Regions from separate parts of the Homo sapiens genome. Here region 2 is linked to region 1. The links come from fine-mapping of genetic effects on gene expression. A gene starts in region 1. The other region holds a variant in brackets. All regions are shown on one strand. Distances are from middle to middle.

Region 1 (2,746 bases):
CCACTGTCCCAGAAAGTTTCCAGTTTGCTAGCTTGTAGCCATTTCCCCTATCTAGGTGCACTGGCCGTGATTTTACCCCACTCCATCTGGGGCGCGCCCGGCGCAGACAGGACTGCAGAGAAAAGGGACAGGGAGGGGACCTAGTCAGTCCCTACTATAACTGTTTCTCAAGACATTCTCCCCATGCATTTATTTGCTCTCCCGGGGAAAGAGCGAAGTGTGGGATGACTCATAGTGGCTAGATCGTTCCTCTAACTCCTCCCTTCTTTTGTGTGTGGTTTAAAAAAAAGAAAAACACACACGCAGCCCATAGCCACAACATCAACAAGACCAGAAGCCCCGCAGAGTTCGCAGGAGGTGGGCAGTGGCTGCGCCACCTGCTCGGCTTCCCCAAACTCCGAGCCCACGCCGGGAAGCGGCGGCTCGGTGGCCCCGGGCGCCCGGGCCGGTGGCCCCGCGCTCGCGCCGCTCCGCTCCGCAGCCGAGCGTGGAGTAGCAGGCGCTCGCGGCGCGGCGGGGGAGCCGCCGCGGAACCCAGGGCAGGCGGCCAAGCGGCCCGGCTGTGTCCAGCCATCGCCTGCGCCGCGGCCAGCTGGCGGCCAGGCGCGGGGCCCCGCGGCCAGATGGCCGCTCCGGGGACGCGCCGCAGGCGCCGGGTGCGCCCGGGCCGAGGGAGCGCCGGCGCGGCTGTGCAGGCAGGGGCTGGGGGCGGCGACCTCTGCCCGGGCGGAGAAGCTCAGGGGCCCGAGCGCGGCGGGCGGGGCGCGCAGCCTCCACGCCGCGCCCTTTGTCCCATGTGCGGCTCACACAGGGGCCCGCGTCCCCCGTGACCCCGGCCCGGGCCGCAGCTCAGGTCCCGGAACCAACTCCTCCAGCAGCGCCGCTCTGGCCCGGGCCGCCGTGCGGGGCTCGGGACACGGCGGCAGCGGGGAACCCGCGCCCGCTCCGCGTCCAACTCCGCTCGCCCCGCGGCGCGCTCGGCCCTGCAGGGGCCGCCCCGCGCGTTACCTGCAAGGAGCCTGAGCCCCGGCCGCATCTCCCTCCCGGGTGCGGAAACTCTGGCGGCTCCAGGCACCCGCCCGGACCTGGCAGGGGGAGGGGCCGCCCGCCGCGCACCCGACCCCCCCCGCGCCGCGCCTCCCGCAGCTCCCCACGCGCGCGGGCGCCCCCCAGCACCAGTCTCGGCCCGCCCCCTCCGCCCGACCATTGGCTGCTGCTCCCGTCACTTTCAGGCCACAGCCAAGTCCCTCCTCAGCTCATTGGCGGACGCGCCGGTGACGTCAGGCCAGGGGGCGCTAGTCGGCGGCGAAGGAGGCGCAGGGACAGACGGACCCGGCGGGAGAGGAGGAAGCCGGGTTGTGGGCGCGGAGCTGAGGCGGAGGCGGGGCCGGGGCGGGAAGGGGCGGCCCCAGCTGGGTCGGGCGAGGCTGGCTGCGGGAAACCGAGTGAGCCCTCGCTTTTCCTCCGGGGTCCGCGCGCGGGACCCTATTTCTGGCCTGTCTCGCGCTTCGCCTGCGCGGTGGTCTCCACGCTGGGACTGCGGCGTCCTCGCAGAACAGCCAGAACTCCACTTCTTCCTGTCCGGGAGGAGTTGTTTAAAACATGCGTATCTCCACCTTCTGCTTCTTAGAACAGAACTGACTGAAGCCGTGTTCTTCCCGCCGAGACCATGCCGCCCCATCGACCCTGCTGCGGCCAGAGCCACCCAGGGCGGGCCCACTCACCGCAGGCTCGGGCCACTTGGTTCCAAACCTCCACTCCCATCCAGGGGCCCGGCACACCCACCACACTCCCACTCTCAGAGGTCTTTGCCGCCTGCTTCAGGAGAAAAGAGAAACTTCCACTTTCCACCGGCAAAACTGCACACCTGCTCCCTCCATCACCGAGCCCCCCCCCCCACCTTCTGTTTTTCCAGTATCGCAGAATCCGATCCGTTGCTCCCTCTGGACTGGAATCCGTATCCTCGGCATTTCATCATTCCAAGATTCTCTACTCCACGTACCCTTGCTGCCACCCTCTTCTACTTTCCATCGCTGAAGTTGGTGAAAGAGGCGCCTGCCCCCAGTTTTGTGGTCTCTCAACTCCACGTGTTCGTTTTCACACTCGGTGAAATTGCCTTTTTAATTGTCGCAAGTAGCATCCACATCACTAAAGTCAAAGGACACTCTCCTTTCTCGTGTTAACTGATCTGAGCAAAATTCCTTCTTTCTCCTTAAAACACGTCTTCCTGTGGCGGGGGTGCTCCACTTTCCTGTCTGTCCCCAGTCTTGGCGTGCTTGTCTACTCTGGGTGACCACCAAATAACAGAGTTTTCAAGGTCTCAGACCTTTCCTCTTACTCCACAATTTTTCCCTGAATGATTTAACCTGCTGTCAACATTTAAATCAATATATCCCAAATTTGCAACTCTAATCTTTGCTCCTCTGAGCTCCAAATCCGTTTATCTAGCTTCCTATTCAGCTACTCCTGGTAACAAGCACCTCAAATGGAACCCATCCAAAACTGAATGCGTCCTTTCCCTGCTTGCTTTCAACTCCCTGTCTCCCTGTGATAGTGAAGACACCACTATCCAGTGTTTCCCAAACTCTGCCTTCACCTCGGCATCTAACAAATCGCCAAGATTCTACTTCCTAAATAACTCTGAAGTCTGTCCACTTCCTACCATTTCCAGTATTACGTATCATAATGTGCTTACTGCACGTGCGTTTTCCCGGCCCACACTCAGTGATGTCTCGTTGGTAGACTG
Region 2 (3,019 bases), 51 kb after region 1:
CTCAGTTTTCCAGAAGAGGCATTTCTTCCTTCGCAGTTTTGAACCATCTTCAGGACAGGAGATAACCGTATTCAAGGTTTTCTCAGTGTTCAATCTATATTGTTTCTGAATGGAGGAAATTTCTTGTACAGAGTGGTCGGGGAGATGGTCACTCTACAATTCATCAAGAGCTTAGCTGCCAAAAAATATCACCTTTGACGATCTCCAGCCTATCCTGAAAATTTCACCCTTTAAGTTTTATTTGTTTGTATACGTATTTTATATTTATACCATATCTATTTCCAAAGATGATTTGAGGAGCTATATACCATCAAGCCAGTTAAACAAGAGCCAAAAGCCAAAGCCTTATAATAAAACAAAAAAGAGATTTTTTCATCAGAAAATTTAGGCTGAGGAAAAATATGAAGTCCAAGAAAAAAATGAACTAAGATCTTTCTGGAGGCAACTGAAAAGGAGTTCATAACCAAAAGAAAGGAGGGGTTACAGACATCGAGTGTGTAACAGTAAGACAGCACTAATTCGTCATAGAAGGACAGGAATTTCCACCAGCAGAGCCCCTTAAGAAGGTTATCTGGGAGCGTGCGGAGGGCCCAAGCAATGTGCTGCAGCCCTGCCTCTTGGGTGCCTTTGCCTGCTAGTTACACTGGCTGGGGGAGGTGGGGAGAGCCCTGGCCACAGGGAGGTGCTCTCAGTGGAGGGGGCATGGCAAGTGTGGCAGCTGGGTGTCAACGTGGGGAGACCCAGGGGAACCCCACAGGCACATGAGAAGTGTAAGAAATGTTAGTTTCTTTTTTTCCCTCTCTGTTGATGTCCTCTTTAATTCAAGGCTTTGTATATGCGTGTTTAAACATTTCCAGGCAAAAATATGTTGGGGCTAAAACATTATTTCGTGGGGAGTGATTGGGAAAGTATGATATCAATTTTTTGAACTATTTTGAGCTTTGTGTGGCCTGTAATAGGGCTATTTTTTCAAGATATGAAGTGGGTATTTGAAAAAAATGCATATTCTCTGCTTTCGGAAACAGAGAACGTTAGTTGTTTAGTCTTGTTAATTGTGTACATAAACTCCTATGGATTTTTGTTTGCTTATTTTTGGTCTGCTTGAAGAATATATTTCAAAAGAGGCATGTTAAGACTGCTTTCTTCAAAAATTTTTGCTTTAAAAGATTTTTTCAAAAATTTACACCACCTCCCCATTGTACATTTTTAAGTTGGCATTTAAAAATATTCACTGTAAGGCTGGGCGCAGTGGCTCATGCCTATAATCGCAGCACTTTGCGAGGCCAAGGTAGGCGGATCACCTGAGGTCAGGAGTTTGAGACCAGCCTGGTGAACATGGTGAAACCCCATCTCTATTAAAAACACAAAAAATTAGCCAGGTGTGGTGGTAGGTGCCTGTAGTCCCAGCTACTCAAGAGGTGGATGCAGGAGAACAGCTTTAACCCAGGAGGTGGAGGCTGCAGTGAGCTTAGATTGCACCTCTGCACTCCGGTCTGGGTGGCAGAATGAAACTTTGTCT[CAAA/C]AAAAAAAAAAAAAAAAAAAAAAAAAATTTGACTGTAAGTTTAAATGGTTCAAAAGAATGTAATGTTTGAATAATATTAATAGTAAATATAATATGTTTCAATTTCTAAATTTTGGATGCTGTGTAGCGAGAGTTCAGATAATGAGGGATTTACCCAAACTCTGAGTCTATTTGGTTCCTGAATTCACAAGGTATGAATTTGGATGGAGATGGGGGTATCTATATTGAGATTAAAAAAATTATTAGGGTTTATTTTCTTCTCTAGAGATTTGCAGATAGATGGTTGGTTACCTAAATTCAGCGGCTCAAGAATGTCAGAAGACTCCCAAGCTGCCTGATATGGTTTGGCTGTGTCTCCACCCAAATCTCATCTTGAATTGTAGTTCCCATAATTCTCTTGTGTTGTGGGAGGGACCTGGTGGGAGATAATTGAATCATGGGAGCGGTTTCTCTCTACTGTTCTCATGGTAGTGAATAAGTCTCACGAGATCTCATGGTTTTATAAGGGGAAACCCCTTTTGCTGGGCTGTCATTCTCTTCTCTTGTCTGCTGCCATGTGAGATGTGCCTTTTGCCTTCAGCCATGATTGTGAGGCCTCCCCAGCCACGTGGAACTCCATTAAACCGCTTTTTCCTTATAAATTACCCAGTCTCGGGTATGTCTTTGTCATCAGCATGAAAATGGACTAATACCCTGCCTTTCAGCAATTCTGTACTATTTTATACCCTGACCAAAATCATATGCATGCCTCTTTCCCTATTCTCATTGTCAACAGTGTATGTTATAAACCTTTAGAAAGTTTTCCAATTTGAGTGAAAGAGTTATATGTTGTATTCATTTGCATTTCCCTGGTTAGCAGTGAAACTGCATGTCGTTTCATGTTTGTTTGGCTATTTAATGTATGGCACCCTCTTTGAATTGCCTTCTTGTCAATTTTGTCCAGTTTTCTATAAAGCAGTTAAAGTACAACTGTCAGAGCGAGAAAAATATCTGAAAGATAAATAACACTGTACAAATATCCATAATGCATAAAGGCTATATTGACATCTTAAATAATGATGTTATTATATTATAACTCACATACAGAAAAGTGAATAAAGCATAAGTGTACGGTTCATGAATTTCTACAAATTGAGCACACCTGTATAACCAGCACCCGGATTAAGGAACAAAGCATTACCAGACTCCCAGAAGCCTCCTGTCCCCTTTCCAGTCACTCCCTGCTCCATTCCAAGGATAACCAGCATCCTGACCCTTTTTTTTTTGATACACAGTTTTGCTCTGTTGCCCAGGCAGGAGTGCAGTGGTGAAATCTCAGCATACTGCAACTTCTACCTCATGAGTTCAAGCGATTCTCGTACCTCAGCCTTCCAAGTAGCTGGGACGACAGGCATACACCACCATGCCAGGCTAATTTTTATAGTTTTAGTAGAGACAGGGTCTTGCCTTGTTCACCAGGCTGGTCTTGAACTCCTGGCCTTAGGTGATCCACCTGCC

What was found. PIP is the estimated chance that this variant, and not a neighbour inherited with it, causes the effect.
Region 2: its variant is fine-mapped to the expression of TMTC4 in whole blood (INTERVAL, PIP above 0.99).

Annotation. Positions count from the first base shown.
Region 1 is chr13:100,673,736-100,676,481 of GRCh38, forward strand. TMTC4 (transmembrane O-mannosyltransferase targeting cadherins 4) reads right to left here and starts at 1,060. Exons shown (of 19, transcript NM_032813.5): 1 at 1,009-1,060. RefSeq lists enhancers at 1-325, 1,651-1,730 and silencers at 441-520, 571-930, 961-1,460.
Region 2 is chr13:100,724,989-100,728,007 of GRCh38, forward strand. All of the region lies in intron 1 of NALCN-AS1 (NALCN antisense RNA 1), which reads left to right. Among named protein-coding and RNA genes, the nearest start is that of NALCN-AS1, 18 kb to the left of the region's middle. The variant CAAA/C (reference allele first, on the strand shown) is at 1,520.